Regions from separate parts of the Homo sapiens genome. Here region 1 is linked to region 2. The links come from fine-mapping of genetic effects on gene expression. A gene starts in region 2. The other region holds a variant in brackets. All regions are shown on one strand. Distances are from middle to middle.

What was found.
Region 1: its variant is fine-mapped to the expression of IL6R in whole blood (INTERVAL, PIP above 0.99).

The regions. Positions count from the first base shown.
Region 1 is chr1:154,463,045-154,471,044 of GRCh38, reverse strand. It overlaps IL6R (interleukin 6 receptor), which reads right to left. Exons shown (of 10, transcript NM_000565.4): 10 at 1,595-5,911. The coding sequence ends at 5,665. It also overlaps a transcript of SHE not described here. Among named protein-coding and RNA genes, the nearest start is that of TDRD10, 35 kb to the left of the region's middle. RefSeq lists an enhancer at 5,579-6,080. The variant T/C (reference allele first, on the strand shown) is at 4,183.
Region 2 is chr1:154,400,019-154,410,105 of GRCh38, reverse strand. IL6R (interleukin 6 receptor) reads right to left here and starts at 4,763. Exons shown (of 10, transcript NM_000565.4): 1 at 4,392-4,763. The coding sequence starts at 4,476. It overlaps IL6R-AS1 (IL6R antisense RNA 1), which reads left to right and starts at 3,542. Exons shown (of 2, transcript NR_147855.1): 1 at 3,542-3,667; 2 at 6,149-7,785. RefSeq lists an enhancer at 3,633-4,239 and silencers at 4,479-4,628, 4,829-4,958.

The DNA.
Region 1 (8,000 bases), 62 kb before region 2:
TTATTTTTTTTTTGTGTTTTTTTTTTTTTGAGATGGAGTCTCACTCACTCTTTGTCACCCAGGCTGGAGTGCAGTGGTGTGATCTCAGCTCACTGAAACCTCCGCCTCCCGGGTTCAAGCAGTCCTCCTGCCTCAGCCTCCCTAGTAGCTGGAATCACAGGTGACCGCCACCATGCCAGGCAAATTTTTTTTATTTTTTATTTTTGAGACAGAGTCTGGCTCTGTTGCCCAGGCTGGAGTGCAATGGCACGATCTCATCTCACTGCAACCTCTGTCTCCCAGGTTCAAGCGATTCTCCTGCCTCAGCCTCCAGAATAGCTGGGATTACAGGTGCCCGCCACCACATGCAGCTAATTTTTGTATTTTTAGTAGAGACGGGGTTTTGCCATGTTGGCCAGGCTGGTCTCGAACTCCTGACCTCAAGTGATCCACCCACCTCAGCCTCCCAAAGTGCTAGGATTATAGGAGTGAGCCACCGCACCTGGCCTTAAAAGGCCTTTCACCTCGCCAGCACACCTCTGCTACTGGAGGATGGAGGATGGCAAACACTGTTTCCTGCCCCTGCCCTGTAATTCTCACAGATATTCAGAAAGGTTTGGTTGCCCTGTGCCTCAGTAAATAAGGAAAATGCTTTCTTAGAAGGCTGCTCCAGTAACTGCATATTCCTTGCCATCCTCTACAGAAATCACCATCTGCTCTCCTAAGTTCTTCTGGAAAGAGCACCGTAACCATGTCATCCTAACAGCAATGCCATGAAGAAAGGGAGGCAGCTCCCTCCACGTCCTGGCTCCAGTGCCCACTCCCGTGCCCCCTCCATGGCCCACGCAGCCTGGCCACCTGGGTGACATCTGGTCCCTGTGTCACTTTCTGCAAGACAAGGACCAGCCTCAAAGAGGAGAGCATGGTGTCCTGAAGGAGATGGCGGCCACCATCACCTGTCCTGTGGCTTTCCTCTGACTGCCCAGGTGGGGGCCCAGAGGCGGCGCCTCTCAGTCCAGCTTTGAGTGGAGTTACATAATTTCCAGGCTTCCCTGCAGTTCTCGCCTCCCCATCCCTGAACTGTTTACACAGTAGCTCTCACCCACAAAGAGTCCGCATGATGGCTTTTCCTCTGTTTGGAAGATGTGGATGGCTGTGTCCCAAGTTTTTCCTACCTAAGATCCTTTTCAGTAGGGGATGGATTTGGTCTATCTGATGATCAAGAGTTCAGGGTGGCCTTTGTGATAGTGTTACACCCCCTCCCAGGTCCAATAAACAGTCTTCTGACAAATAATGGCCCTTCCTTTTCCTTCCCCACCTGTCCACCACCTGGTAATGTGATGTAAGCGTGGCAAAATCCCACACACCCCTTCCAGAAATCCCAGGACTCGTGTGGGAAATACTGTCATAATTAAAGCCTTCTGAGAAATTGCTGCTTCTTCCTTGAACTTACCTACTTTTGAGCGGTCCTTTAATCCTGCATTAAGGGGATACCCCCCCAAAAATGGTTCTACTTAATTATCCCCCCTTCCTCACTCCTTTCTCCTCATGAATCAGGCAAGCCTTTTTTTTTTAGATGACCCAGATGCCCAAAGCAATAATTACATTTCAAGGGTATTTTTTAAGAGTATTTATTCCAAACACAATGTTCACTTTAAATGCAAAATAGCTGGTAGAAAAAAAAACACTGAAAAATATACTGACCCTTTGCCCCATATACAGACATCAGCCTTTGGTATTTGCTTTCAGGTAATTAGGTAAAACAAACAAACAAAAACTTGAAACTATTATTTATCTCCAAGAAAACAACGTAGAGTTGAGGTATTCTATTTAACAGATGTGATCTCCATCCAATAAGGTCTCTCTGTTAATTAACAGCCTTGTGACATGCTGTTCCAATCCTTTCCTCCTAAAGTAGAATTTCATTTGAGCATATGTTCATAAAACTGACAGTGTTCCTTAATAATCACTAAGGTTGCCATAGAAACTCCCTGGTGCTGGTGCCCAGCCGCACGGAGGACAGGAGGCCTTCACAGGGCACTGAGGAGGGCCTGGCACGGACCCTGAACTGGCCCGCCTGCCCCTCCGTGTGCAGCCCCTGCCCACGGCTGCACGGGACAGCTGGGTGCAGGGCTCTTGCCTCAAAGGGTCACAGGTTGCCCCTGCATCTCCAAATTAAGACCACCAACTCCACCTGGAGCTGGTGTCAGCATCCTCCCCACCTGGGTTAGCCTTCTGGACGTGCTGTGAGATAATAGAGCTCAGCACCAAAGCAGCTGGGAAGACATTCCTGAACATTCTCCAGGAAACAAACCCATAGACCACAACATGCCCAGCCTGCCCCACTGGGCCCTGTTCACTACCAGGTGGGCTTCCAGCCTGGTTCCAGCAACAGATTCCACAACCTGCCGCGGCAACCAGTTTCCTTTCTCCCAAGACAGCAGGGAAGTGCCAGAGGCTCCGTGTGAACTCAGAGCCTGATAAAGAAAGCGTAAGGGCAAGTCCCCATCAGGGCCAAGAGCTCTCTGAGTTACCAAAGGCCTCGTCAACATAGCCAGTGCTACCCCTGGACACATTTCTTGAAAATATTTCATTAATGCTACAAACATTATTGATCATTTTACTTTAGGCCTTGAACCAGCATATTTTTTACTTTCCCCACCCAGCAGGATAAGCTGTCGTATTTAACCTAAATGGTCTCTGTCTCAGCGTTTCACGTCTGGCTGCGTGGCAGATGGCTACAGGTGTTAGGCAAATAACAGCACTGCTGGGGACTCAAGGCAGTGGGGGTGCTGCAGAAACACAGGTAGAAATGCCCCGTGCATTGAGACACATGTTCAGTCACCACAGATTAGAGAACATAGAGAGCTTAGGATGTATACCTGTGTACGCTGAGCCAGGCCTACAGCCCAGAGAAGACATTTTTTCTTCATTTACATTAGCTTATGAAAAATAAAGGGAAAACAACCCTCTTCAATACAAAAACAAAAAAACAAAACAAAGCAATTCCATTACAATAAAAATGAAAGCAATAACAATTTGGAGATCAAAGCTGCCTAGCTCTTGGCAATAATGAGCTATCTGGATTTCACATCTTCCGCTAGCATGGTTCTGCCCGGCTTTGGTAACACCACATGTGGGTAAAACGGTATAAAGAATTGAAGAACTGTGGGCACAGAATCACCCTTACTGCAGATTCTCATTCTTAATATTTCCCTTTAACAGCATTTTGCTGTTCTCAAGTCTCAGAAACTTTATGTGGTGGGATGGGAGGGAACCACCATAACCGCCTGCCTGCCTTTTTTTTTCTTAACTGTTATTGTTCATAATAGAGATGGTGTCTCACTATGTTACCCAGGTTGGTCTCAAACTCCTGAGCTCAAGCAATCCTCCCACCTTGGCCTCCCAAAGTGCTAGGATTACAGGCGTGAGCCACCGCGCCCGGCCATCCTGCCTTTTTGCCAACCTAAGATGAGTTGCCTCAAGCAGCAATAGGGTCTAAAATCTACAGACAAGCCCAGCAATGAAAATCACGGCTTACTGAAGACAGTAACAGCTTAAACCTGGAAAACCGTAAACAAAACATGGTCACTTTCATCCTTTCGCACCTGTCTGGTGATGGTGGTGGTTTTTCTAAGAGGGTAGAGTATTAGAAAAGTTTTGTGGTCTGGTAAATATTGGGTCCATGGTTACACGGCTGATTTAAATCATATCCCCACTCTGGAATACCCTGATAACTTGAGAGCTAACTGGGTAACCACTAACACCACTGAATTTTCAAAGCTCGGACAGAAAAGTCAGCTGAAGTGGTTAATCATGGTGTTACAACTAGACATTTAGTCCTGCTTCAATTCTTGCAGAGCTGAATCAACTCAAGGAACTAAATAAAAAGAGGAAGGCACCGAGGTAAGGGATTTTTTTTAAATGGGATTTTTTTAAAACCTCTTTGATAGCAGAAAGCTCAGGGCTTTCAGGGTGGGGAATTTCTAGGACCCTGCCGGGCAGTCGTGGGAGGCTTCCTTCTCGGCACTGGGACAGGGACCGGACACCCTCTCCATAACCACCTGGGGGAGTAGTCACACGCTGGTTTTTCCCTAGAGTAGAGAAGAGGCAGGCTATTTTTCCACTTTTTAAGACAAAAACAAAATACAGAATGAAACCACAATCTCTTCTCTAATAGGGAAAATATTTTTTCTTTTTCTT[T/C]TTCTTTTTTTGAGACAGGGTCTCACTTGCTCTGTCACCCAGGCTGGAGTGCAGTGGTGCAATCTCGGCTCACTGCAGCCTTGACCTCCCAGGCTCAAGAGATCCTCCCACCTCAGCCCCCCAAGTATCTGGGACTTCAGGCACACTCTACCACACTTGGCTAATTTTTATGCTTTTTGTAGAGATGGGGTTTTATCACATTGCCCAGGCTGATCTCAAACTTCTGGACTCAAGTGATCCTCCTGCCTCGACCTCCCGAAGTGCGTGGGCCACCATGCCTGGCAGGAAAATATTTTTTCTCTTCCTCCTTTTTCACTTGACTTGGTTTTGGGCTAAACAAAGTTATGGTGCTTCCCCCACACCTAAGTAAGTTACTTCTATGCTGACACAGCGAATATTGGATATTCCACCCTCTCAAGAGAAAACAGTCAGCAGTTTTTTAAAAACCAAGTTTAAACACATTCTTGCCAGGCTCATTTTTCTTTTCACATTGTCTTCCTTAATATTATCTTCCCTAGTTACCCAGGTTCAGCTGACAACAAACAAAGCTGCAGTAAAACCGTTTTGATCTCAGAAATGGCAGAAGCCCTCCCTGCTGCTAGCTCTCCTTTGTGGGAGGTGGAGAAGAGAGAACATTGGTTTTCAGAGGCTGTGATCCCCCACTCAGCTCCCACTCTACAGGGGATGGTAGAGACCCTGTGCCCCTCTCCTCTCCTTCCTCTGCTTCTCACCTGAGGTCCTGCAACCCAAAGCCAATGCAGTTGCCTCTGTATTCAGCAAATGCCTAGGATCATCATTCACATTTAGCAAAATGCTAATGAGGAACTAATTATAATTCTGTTGAAAACGACCAGGCCCTGAGATACTGTATTATTCACCCACTCACCCTCAGCTGTTTTTCAACTGTAGGGAAGAAAGGGAGGAGAGAGCTTCTTCCCCCAGCCTTGGCGGTTTAAGTAAAAGCCGTCCCCAGGCCTAGAAAAACAGAATTTGCTAAGGCACTTGGGTTTTAAGAGTTTGAGTTGGAAGATGAAACGATGCAGTGGGCCAGGAGCATGGCGGCTGGAGGAGGCTTTGGCTGGAAATCCATCCCACCTGCCTGAGGGTGCAGCTTGTGCAGAGGTGTTGAGGGGTGGGCTGCCAGCCGCTTCTCCACACCGAGGCCCCCACCAACCTGCCCAGCTTTTGAGTGTCCGTGTGAGTGTCCAAAGAGTCTTGATATGGTTCTCTTCACAGTGGCCCAAGTTCACTCTAGCCCCTTTAAGCTGGGCATTTGGAAAGGGAGGTTTGAAACCTCAACCAGCTGAACAGCTGGAGCAGGCTGATTTTCCCCTGGCGTAGAACCTTCCGCAAGGCTCTTCCGTGAAGCCAAAGGCCGCACACCCCTGAGATAAGCTGGCATGGCAGTGAGAAGCATCTTTTGCTGAGCCCGTTTGTGTTTTATCATCCACAGGGTCCAGGCTGCTGGTGCCACCCAGCCAGCTATCTGGGGAAGAAGTAGTCTGTATTGCTGATGTCATAAGGGCTCCGTGGGTCCCTGGCATCTGGTCGGTTGTGGCTCGAGGTATTGTCAGACCCCAGGCTGCTGGGGGACACCGGTGGGGAGATGAGAGGAACAAGCACTGGGGTGGGTCGAGGCCTCTCCGGGACCAGCTGCCCCAAAGAGTACGGCGGATGCATGCTTGTCTTGCCTTCCTTCAGAGCCCGCAGCTTCCACGTCTTCTTGAACCTTCACACAAACACACAAAGACAAACCACACAGATTTTTAGCTCCCCCTGTGACAAGCCCACAGTGGAAAACACCAACAGCTGGCTGCCCTGGTGGCCTGGCGCGCCCAGGTTTCGGCTCAAAGGAGCAATAACTATCAGCTGTCTTTTTGTTTTTTGTTCATTTGTTTGTTTTGAGACAGGATCTTGCTCTGTTACCCAGGCTGGAGTGCTATGGCGTGATCTCAGCTCACAGCAGCCTCAACCTCCTTGGGCTCAGGTGATTCTTCCACCTCAGCCTCCTGAGTAGCTGGGGCTACAGGTGTGTGCCACTACATCCGACTGATTTTTGTATTTCTCATAGAGACAGGGTTTTGCCATGTTGCTCAGGCTGGTCTTGAATTCCTGGGCTCGAGCAATCCGCCCGCCTCGGCCTCCCAAAGTGCTGGGATTACAGGTATGAGCCGGCACACCCGACCCGACTGTTTTTATCACCAGGGAGTTCACCATACTCTGAAGAGTTGGTGAGTTTCCAAAACACTCCCAAGGAAATAGATGTGTATTGTTGGTCCAATTTACAAGTGAAGAAACTGAGGCACCAAAAAGTCACTTAACAGTCCCTTAATTGTCCCATTGCAGAGGCTGTTCATTAGGTACACATCATCAGTCCCAAATCCATTTACTTAAAAAAAAGAAAAATAGGCTGGGCGCAGTGGCTCACGCCTGTAATCCCCACACATTGGGAGGCCGAGGCGGGCGGATCACCTGAGGTCAGGAGTTCAAGACCAGCCTGGCCAACGTGGTGAAACCCCGTCTCTACTAAAAATACAAAAATTAGCCAGGCGTAGTGGCAGGCACCTGTAATCCCAGATACTTGGGAGGCTGAGGCAGGAGAATCGCTTGAACACGGGAGGCAGAGGTTGCAGTGAGCTGAGATCGTGCCATTGCACTTCAGCCTGGGCAACAAGAGTGAAACTCTGTCTCAAAAATAAAAAAAAAGAAAAGGAAAGAAAATAAAAAAAGAAAGCATTCTTTTAGTAGGGAAAGAAAATGGGCCTCTCGGTCAAAGTAAGGCTGGCAGGAGGCAGATAATTTGCAACCGCCATGTAATAGCAGGAAAAGGGTCCCACTGCTCCCTCAACTGCCTTCCTGTTCCTCTTGCTCCTAATGTTGCTGACCTCCCCAGTTCTCCCTACGCCTCTCGGTCCACTCCCACCATGCTGGTGAGTTCCCACAGACTCAACTGTCGGCACCACTGGGCACAATTTGACTCATCTGACAGGAAAGTCAATGCTACACAGGAAGGAGATAGACATCTTTCTGATCACAGCTTGGTTCACAGTGCTCCACTCTGGGCCCAAAGCCAGGGCTCAGTAACTGAGAAAAGTCACTTGACAGCTCAAAGAAAGATGAAATGGTGACATGGATCTTCAAAAGCACAGTCACGTCCCCTTCCTAAAGGGGCCCTTCAACTGTGCCAGGGTGGCCAGTGCCCCAAGCCTCAGCCCCTCCCTCTTGCTTCCCACTTTGTGACTGACATGCCTCCTAACCCCAAAGTGGGAACAAGGTGGCCTCCCTCAATTCCATGGAAGATCAGTTACTCCAGGAAGGGCTGGGAAAGAGGAGGGGAAACCAATGTCAAAAACAAGATTTGGGGATTTTCCTTGGGTTTCTTTTTATATCGACAGGTTATTCCTGTCCTTGTTATGATAAATAATTAATAGTTGGCTCCAAATCTGCCACTGGCTTTTAGCTTGGTATCCAAATGAAATAAACAATCTGCAGAATATTATTTAGGGCTTCACCATGTGGACACCACACAGGAAGAGAGCCCAGCAGGGCTGCTGACTGGAGCTATGCTGAGTCATTGAATGGAGTTCTCCTGTAAGAAAGGACTGAGGAGAGAATCATTACACTCTGGATTTCAAAGAATTCAGACTCTCTGACCCAGGAATTCTACTTCTGGGAAAAGAAAGAACATAGCTATAAAAAAAAAAAAACCCTTTATGCACAAAGATGTTCAACACAGTGTTTTTTATAAAAGCAAAATAAGGCCGGGTGTGGTGGCTCATGCCTGTAATCCCAGCACTTTGGGAGGCCAAGGTGGGTGG
Region 2 (10,087 bases):
TCCAGGGCAGGGAGCATCCATGTGTCCCCACAGAGCCCTCTGCTCCAGAACATAACACACCCTCAGGTAGTACACATTGTTAAAGAGGAGGCAAGAATTTTCCTGCCCAAGATGGACATATAGGGAATCTCTAGAGATTTGTATATTTTCTTCAGGTCTTCACTCAAATATTATGTTCTCAGCAAGGCATTCCCTGGCCTCCCATCCAAGGCACCATGCCACCCCACCCTGCCACAAACACACATGGGGTCTGTCTCCCTCTCGGCTTTAGTTTTTCTCCTTAGCACTAGTCGCTAGCATACCACATACTTAATTTACATCCTGTTAATAGTCTCCCACACTAGAATGAAACTCAACTAAGCCTGGGGTTTTTGTCTCTTTTATTCATGGTGTATCTCCAGCTCTTAGAATAGTGCCTGGAACAGAGTAGGAGGTGTTCACTCCAAAAATATATTTTTGGAGTGAATGAATGATCACCTACACTTATTTAAGCACTTGCTGTGTGTTAGGGACTTCTGTAAACACTCTATTTAATACCTTACTTAGCTCATCTCATCTTCATAACCACCCTTCGAGGTAATACAATTATTTCTATTTTCTAGAACACTGGCTGTCAAAGAAGTTAAATCACTTGCCCAAGGTGTTATCATTTTTACTTGGCAGTGCAGGGCAGAGATGTGCCTGGCTTGAAGACCTTAGCCATCACCTATGCAAAATGAGCTGTGTTCAGGTGGAGGAGAGCAGAAGGCAGAGGGGGATAAAGGAAAAGAGAACAGAAAACCTCTGGAAGAAACTGGTTAACACTCTAGCCCAGCACCGTCCAGTAGGGCTTTCCACGATGATGGAAGAGATCTGTATCTGCACTGTTCAGTACAGTAGCCACTAGCAATGTGAGTGTTGAGCACTTAAAATGTGACTAGTGCAACTAAGAAACTAAGTTTTTATTTGATTTCATTTAAATTAATTTTTTGGAGACAGGGTCTCCTGTCGCCCAGACTGGAATTCGGTAGTGCAAACATGGCTCCATGCAGACTGGACTCAAGTGATTCTCCCACCTCAGCCTTCTCAGTAGCAGGGACTACAGGCTCATGTCACTGTGCCCAGCTAATTTTTTAAATCTTTTTGTAGAGACGGCATCTCACCCTGTTGCCCAGGCTGGTCTCCAACTCCTGAGCTCAAGAGATCCTCCTGCCTCAGCCTCCCAAAGTACTGGGATTACAGGCGTGAGTCACTGCGCTGGCATAATTTAAATTTAAATAGGTACACGTGGCTAGTGGCTACCGTATTACAGAGCACAGCTTCAATCCAGACTAGATTCATTGACTGGAAACTCTTTTGCTTGCTGGGTCTGTGGCTTCCAGGCCTGGTGGGACCAGGATTCAGGAGACGGGGGAAGGGAGTGTATATTTTCAGCAGTCAGCACCTAGGTTACTTTGTGTAATCTACAAATACCCAGTGAGGGGAGTATTTGTTTACCCTGGCTGCTGAGGGCTGGAGATGAGGGTCAGGGTCAGGATCAGTGTGCCTGCTGCCTTGGGATCTTGGTCCTCAGTCAGAGGAACTTCCTCTCTCTAACCACCCCCTACCCCAAGCCAGACAATCTGTTCACGGGTAGTTGGTACCCAGTGGCCCGGTCAGAGTCTGGGGTTTCTCAGCCCTTCTCAGGATTTACCCATGACCATTTTCAGGCTCCTTTTAGGGTGGAGTCTGCATAGCTGATCCTACACAGGCCTCACAGGCTCTACACCGACTCAAGAAATGTTTGCTGCAATGAATAAACAAGCAGCAAGCCAAAGCAAGGAGAGATTTCTGGCAACAGAGAGCCCGAAGCGGGAGGGCCTTCATTCAGTTCCTCAATGACACCATTTAGGCAGCCGTCCTCAAACCTGACAGTGCCTAAGAATCACAAGGGGCAGTTTGTTTAAAAGGACATGCCCCAGGCCTCACTCCTAGGTGTTCTTATTTAATAAATCTGGGTTAGGGTTCAAAAATCATCATGTTTACCAAAGCCCTCCCACCCAGCACACACACCAGATCTGATGCTAGGCTCAGAACTAAGCTTTTGAGAAATACTGATTTAGGGTGAGGCTAGGCACGTGTGTGGGTAATGGGGGCAGGAAGAGGTGCCCTAGAAGGAAATTCAGAAGCTGAGATAGCTCTTTGAGATACTTAAAGGTATACATACTTCTTTTGTGTATTTTCTTGCATTGCAGTAGGAAGAGGGAACTTGAGTCACCCAAGTCCAGCCTTCCAGCACCAGAGTGTTGGAACCGGCAGAAGCCTAAGTCCCAGCTAGTCCAGGCCCTTAGACAACGAGTACACCTGAGAAGTCCTGGCAGCTCCAGGGTGTGTGGGCGGCAGCTGATCCCGAGGAAAACAAACCTCTGGGCTCTAAGAGCCCCGCAGGCTGTACCTGCGGATTTCCCCTCTCAGCCAACTCCAGCCTCTGCTCCCCCTCTGCTCCTCACTTCTCTAAAGCGAAACATCTCACAGTCATTTGCTCCATGCTTCCTGTACGATTTCTTTATTTTTACTCTCCAGTTTGTGGGCTGAGTCTGTGTGGGTGTGGGAGAGGGGCTGGGTATTTCTACTTCTCTGCATTTTCCTTCTGAGCTGGGAGGACTTTCACTTCCTCCCCAGTCTCTCAGTTCTGCCTTTCATGGGCTGTTCAGGCCATGAGACCACCTCTCCTAATCCTTCCTGAGCACCAGGGAAATGGAAAACTGACTGTAACTGGCTGCCCTGGAAGGGCCTAGCATCCACTCAGGAGCAACAGGTGGTGGCAACTACAGCAGTAACAGTAACCTCCCTGGGGCAGGAGCCTTGGGCTGGCGTGACAGCAGCAGAGGCAGCCAAGGGAGCCCTGCTTGCTCCTGAGGCCATCCGAGCCCTGGAACCTGTCTTGCATCCCTCTAACACCACCATGGGCAAGCCTGGGCCTCCACTTCCCTCCCTCAGCCTTTTCTGTCCCAGCACTCAGCCAGACAAGAGTGACTCTCAGCTTGCCCCAATGCCCCCAGCTCTGCCTGCTGATCTAGTTCTATATTTGAGAGTCTTAGACATCTACCACACTGGAGCACAGAGCCACGGGAGGGGTTGGCCTCCATCACCGGGGCCTGACAACCTGCCATCCCGCCATCCCAACCTCCCTGAACCTCAGTCTCCTCTTTCAAACAAAGTTATATGTAGATACAGTGGAGGATTAGAAAACATTGAATGGGTGCCCCAATCAACAGTGTCTGTTACTGGCAGGAGTTATAAATGTGTATTGAAAATGGAATCCCTTCTTTTTTTCTTCCAATCATAAGGACCACAACCATCCAAAAAGCAAAGAGAGCCTCAGACACTCCAGCTCAGCCTCTAGTTGCAGAAAGTCACCTCCTCAAAGGGAGAGATCAGTGTTCACCTAGGACTGGAATTCAGTGTGATCTAGTGGTTGAAAGTCTTAGCCTTCAGCCTCCCCAGCCTGTCAGCTGTTCCAGAAGCCTGTCAGCTGCCCCTTAGTTTTCTGCTGTGTCCTCAAAGAAGCACTGGGACCCTAAAATAAACCTCTGGAGAGCCAGTTGCCCAACTCTTCCAGAAGAGAGACTAGACACGCAGCTGGGCATGCGGCCAGAGCCCAAGAAAAGCCTGGTTTGCCAGGGGCAGATTACAGTCAACGGGAGCAGTAAGTGCCTCTGCCCTCTCCCTCACGGGTCCTTCTCTTTTCTAGAGGGGAGTCCAGCACGTGCCAGCCCCAGGAGGTCTCACTCCCTTGCCAGCCTCCCGACTCAATTCCCAGGACTGGGGCACTTGGCTTCCCAGAGTTGGTGGCTGCCAAAGTGACTCCGTGCAGCGGGAAGATCCGTGACTCAGCGCCCGTGATGTCAGTCCCTTCATAGTCAGGGCACTGTCATCCACACATGCACCCGCGGGGGTGGGGGGAGGACCAGGCGAGGTGGACCCCCAATGCAGAGGGAGAAGAGGGGCGCTGGTACAAAGGACTCCCCAGGCGGGTACATCACCCCGCTGGGGCGCGCCCTCTCGGGCAGTCTCCCCTTAGAGTAACCTGGGACGCGGTTGTGTAAAGGCTCCTGGGGGCACTGGGAAGGAAGCTCGAGAGTCAGGTTTGCAAGGACACAGTCCTGTACACAGACCGCAGGGTTCCCGCACAGCTTCACCGGGCATTCCGGGGAGCGCTCCGGACCAAGGGAGCAAGCGCAGCAGGGGGCGCAAGAGCCACTACCCGCGACCACACAGCTAGGTACCCGCGGGGCCTCAAGGCAGCCACAGAAAAGGGGATCCGTCGCACCTCCTTTCCTCCCTCCAGCCTCCCACAGACTGCGGTGACCAAGGCGGTTTCCCCCAGCCGCTAGCTGCCCCAGCCCTCCAGGTGCGCCCGAAGCCCTTACCCTGCGCAGGGCAGCGCCTTGGGGCCAGCGCCGCTCCCGGCGCGGCCAGCAGGGCAGCCAGCAGCGCGCAGCCGACGGCCAGCATGCTTCCTCCTCGGCTACCACTCCATGGTCCCGCAGAGGCGGACAGGCTAATGGGAACCGGGCGGCAGGGGTGGCAGGGGCGGGGCGGGGCGGTGGGCGGGCAGGCGGGCTCAGGCCCCGGGGGCAGCCCCCATCCGCAGGAGCCCGGCTCTCTACACACACTGCGAGTCCCTCGGCCCCGCGCCGCGCTCGGCTCCTCTCCCTCTGGCCCGGCTCAGTGTCAGTGCGACTTCCCACTCGCACATGACTCAGAGCGGCGGACGGTCCTGGCAACGCAGGAAAACATTTGAGGAACTCGCGCTGGAGCGTCTCTGGGCCGTCCCAGGGTGCGGTTACGAAAGCCGGAGCGGATGGCGCAACAGCCCCGCGCACCGGCCGACCGAGGGGGTGGCTTCCTGCCACAGCGCCGCACCTGAGCGGGGAGAACAGGGGACCGCCAGCCCCACCAGAGCCCTTCCTCCCGGTTCTGTTGATGAGAAAAGGGCGTATCAGCCACCAGTGGGCAGTGGCCTAGTTTTGATTTTTGGTTTCGTGAACGGGATTACGCTGTGAAAGGCACACCTGGAGAGCCCTCGAGGAGGCGATGTTCCTCTTACCCTTAGGGTAAAACAGTGCTTGGTAGCCCGGTTGCCCACTGGAATCAGCCAGGAGCCCTAAAACCCACCAATGTCTGGGTCGGGTCTCCAGAGATTCTGATTTCATCGGTCTGGGGTGAGGCTTGGGCATCGGAAGACTCACCACCGTAAAGGCACAGTCTTTCTGCCCAGCTGCTCCTCGCAGGCTGCAGCAGAGGCAAGGAAACGGTTTGGACTTTGCAGTCAGATAGACCTGGGTCCCCATTTAGACCTACCATCTACTGTGTCTGTGACTTCGGTTCAGAATCTGAGTCTCCATTTCCTCATCTGTCAGAGATAAGAAAGCCTATGCTGCCCAGGGTTATTAGGAAGGTTCTGTGGATGGCACCTAAACACCTGACACACGGTCTGGGCCACACGTGCTCAGTAGACATCAGAACGTTCATGGCTGCCCTCCTGACTTGACAGACAGACACTAACACCAGGGGCAGTGGCTCACGCCTGTAACCCCAACACTTTGGGAGAGCCGGGTGGGTGGATTGCTTCAGTCCAGGAATTCTAGACCAGCCTGTGTAACAAAGTGAGACCCCCATTTCTATAAAAAAATTTAAAAATTAGCTGGGTGTGGTGGTACACACCTATAGTCCCAGCTACTAGGGAAGCTGAGGTGGGAAAATTGCTTGAGTCCGGGAGATCCAGGGTACAGTGAGCCGTGATTGGGGGCTGCTACTCCAGCCTGGATGACAGTGAGACCCTGTCTGGAAAGAAAAAAAAAAAAAGAAAAGAAAGAAAGAAAAGGAAGGGAGGAGGGAGGGAGGGAGGGAAGGAGGGATAGAGGGGAAGGAAGGAAAGGAAGGAGAGAAAAAAAGAAAGAAACAAGCACCTGGCTTTTGAGCAACCACAAGGACCTTGAAGGGGACCATCTGTCCGTCCCTTGGAGGGGAACTCTCTCAAGGACCCCCACAGAGCCTAAAGCTGATAGGATGGCCTCATAGCTGAATCTGGAGGGAAAGAAAAATGCTGAAATAAAGTTTAGGCTGAGAAGCTTCTAGACCAGCAACTGCTCATTAGAATGTGTTTTTCTACCTTTGGTTTCAGGCCAATCCTAACCCAGATCAAAGATCCTGGGACAGCTGGAACAGGCATGGCCTAATGGAACTCCCAAGTGGACAGGGCCAGGCATGGACGGACAGAGCTTCTGAAACAGTCCTCAGACCCCGTGCATCTGGATCTTTCTGTAGGAACCACCCATCAGCAGTGCCAGACAGAACCAAGCACATGCACTGATCCACCGCACGATGGGAGCTGGTGTGGGTGAGCTTGTTTGCTTTAGCCATGCCCACAGACAGGAACAGAAGAGCACAGTGGAGGCCACCAGCCCTCTCGCCTGCTATTTCAAAAGGGGTTGCAGCAGGGCTGGAAAGCGGTTCCCACTGTGGTTGCCCCCTTCCTCTCTGTGGCACACACAGACCTGAAAATAACCAGAGAGGGACTGTGAGCTGCCAGCCTAAAACAGGAAGGCTGCAGAAAGTCCTAGGCTCAGATAGGAGAGTTTAAAAGAATGTTGAAACCAAGAACGGGCATCACAGATCCCACCTGTCTCTGCACCAAAGCAGACCTCCCCCTCTCTAATCTACTGGTGGGGAGCCTGTGTGCTCTGTAGTCATGCAGATCCCAGCTTTACCACTTGCTGGCTGTGTGACTTAAGCAAGCTATTTAACTTCTCTGAACCCCTATTTCCTGATTTGTAAGATAAGCGCAGCAATATACAAAGTTTTAGTGTTGTGGTTCACATGAAAAAATTTAATCCTGGCCAGGCCGGACGTGGTGCCTCACACCTGTAATTCCAGCACTTTGGGAGGCCAAGGTGGGCAGATCATGAGGTCAGGAGTTCGAGACCAGCCTGACCAACATGGTAAAACCACATCTCTACTAAAAATACAAAAATTAGCCGGGCATGGTGGTGCGTACCGGTAGTCCCAGCTACTCAGGAGGCTGAGGCAGGAGAATCACTTGAACCCAGGAGGCGGAGGTTGCAGTGAACCGAGATGGCACCACTGCACTCCAGCCTGGGCAAGAAGAACGAAACTCCCTCTCAAAAAAAAGAAAAGAAAAAGAAAAAAGAAAGAGAAGAAAGCATACCTGCACAATTCAGCCTGACCTGCCCTCACCCAGACAACAGAAGGAACAATGAAGACTTTAGTTGTCTGAGCCAGAACACTTCTCAGATAACTGTGCTGCTTACAAATTGCTTTACATACACAATCTCCTCTGAAATTCTCAACCCTGAATGCTGGGAGACATTGCCCCCAATTTTCAGATGAGTAGACTGAGGCTAACAGAGGTAAAGTGGCTTGTTCAAAACTGCACTACTAGTAACTGGCAGCTCCAGGGTGAGGTCTGGCTCCTGGCCCAGGACTCTCACTGAGCAAGGGCTCGGTCGGCCCACCCAGGACCAAAGACACTGCAGACCATGGCAGCAGGCACTTGGTGTTCTGTAGTCTGTGAGGGGAGAGCAGAGAGCAGAACCTGGTGTGTGGGACACCCTCTCCTTCACCGGTGTTCCTGCAGGGACCCTCCGTCTCCTGTAAAGGGGGAAGCCCTAGGCTGACTCCCAGCAAGCAAGTCCTCTCTCACCTTTCACCTGAAGCGATGAAGCATCTTAAAGTTTGCCTAAAGCAGAAGTCTACAGGAGACCCACAGAATAAATATGTAAGGTTATTTTGAAACCAAAAGGGACTTGGTCATCATTGCTTCTCCTCCCTCACTTTTTAGATAAGGAGCTAGGCCTCAAGAAGAGAAGTTGCTTGGTAAAGATGGCACAGGCAGTGGTGACAGAGCTGGTCAAGATCCCAGATACCCTGACTCAAAGTGGTCTTTTTAAATTCCCACCCTGCCCCCAACCTCCAGGTCTGGGCTGATGTGTTGGGGCCATTCTCAACTGTGAGAGTTTAAAACTATGCACTTTATTCTCTATTCACCATGTGAATCCATCTTTAGGGACAACGATTATTCTGAGAAGTGCAGTGGGGTAGGGCTGAACTGACCTGCAGACCCCTCCCTGGCCTCTGGCCCTGGAGCCAGCCCCTGGTTAATCAATAATTACAGGAAGGTGCTTCTTATTCTCTGAAACCTTCCCCTCCTGCTTTCTCATCAGCCTGGGAGGAGGTTACGTGGGCAGACAGAGGTCTAATAACAGAACTCAGTGTCTGGCCAGTGGCATCCCTCAGAGTCAGGCCCCAGCCAGGGCCCACTGAGGGCCTCAGCCTGCCTGTGGAGACCCTCGCTTTCACAGTGGAGGAATGCAGCATCCCTGGCTCCGGCAGCATGACAGTCTGGCTCCCCATTGCCTCACCAGGTGAGTTTACACCCAGAAAAGGGATTTGTTTAGCACCATTCTCAGAAAGGGTTCATAAAAGTTTATCCCCTTCTTGTAATATTTAGAGAATGTTATGATTTTTAACTGCTAAAAAGCATCACAGTTATAGCTGGGCATAGTGGCACATGCCTGTAGTCTCAGCTGCTTGGGAGATTGAGGCAGGAGAACTGCATGAGCCCAGGAGGTCAAGGCTGCAGTGACCTATGATTACACCTTTGGCACTCCAGCCTGGGCCACCGAGCAAGACCCCGTCTTTAAAAATAAAAATAAAAATAGGGCCAGGCACAATGCCTCACACCTGTAATCCCAACACTTTGGGAGGCCAAGGCGGGCAGATCATCTGAGGTCAGGAGTTTGAGATCAGCCTGGCCATCATGGTGAAACCCCATCTTTACTAAAAATACAAAAATTAGCCTGGCCTGGTGGCGCATTCCTGTAATCCCAGCTACTTGGGAGGCTGAGGCACAAGAATCTCTTGAACCCAGGAGGCGGAGGTTACAGTGAGCCAAGATTGTGCCACTGCACTCCAGCCTGGGCAACAGAGCAAGACTCTGTCTCAATAAATAAATAAATAAATAAATAAATAAATAAATAAATAGCATCACAATTAAAATTAAATGTAGAATTGTCATATAATCCGGCAGTTCCACTTCTGGATATATTCACAAAAAAATTGAAAGCAGGGACTCAAACAGATATTTGTACACCCGTATTTTTAGCAGCATTATTTACAATAGCCAAAAAGTAGAAACAATTCAAAAGTCCATCAAGAGATGAATGGATAAAAAAATGTGGTATGTACATATAATGAAATATTACTCAGTCTTAAAAAGGAAGGAAATTCTGACATATGCTACAACATGATAAACCTTGAAGACATTATGCTAAGTGAAATAAACCAGACACAAAAGGACAAATATTATATGATTTCATTTATATGAGGTACCTAGAGTAGTCAAATTAATAGAGATAGGAAGCAGAGTGGTAGCTGCCAGGGGTTAGTAGGAGGAGAGCGGGAAGTTATTGTTTAATGGGTACAGAACTTCCGTTTTTGCAAGATGAAAAGAGTTCTGGAGATGGATAGTGGTTATAGTTTCACAATAATGTGCATGTGCTTAATGCCACTGAACCATTTAAAAAATGGTTAAAATGCCCAAATGAGGGGGATTGCTTGAGGCCAGGCGTTCAAGGCTAGCCTGGTCAACATAGCAAGACCCTATCTCTACAAAAAATTTAAAAATTAGCCGGACATGGTGACCCACATCTGTAGTCCCAGCTACTTGGAAAGATAGCTTGAGGCAAGGAGTTTGAGGATGCAGCAAGCTATGACGGCGCCACTGTACTCCAGCCTGGGGGACAGAAAAAGACCTTCCTTATCTTAAATAAATAAATAAAAAGCTAAAATGGGAAATTTCATGTTTTGTATATTTTACCACATTTTTAATAAAGCATCGCAATTATAAAATTAAACAAGCTAGATGCTTGGAAATCCAGAAAACAGATTGCATTATTGAGTTGGTGGGGAAGGGAAGATAACTCATATTTTTAAAGGATATATAACGAGATTCCTTAAAGATAGTGCACTTTTTTTGGTGCACTATACAATATAATTCTATGAACACAAACTCTGGAGCCAAAGTGTCTGGGTTCAAATCTTA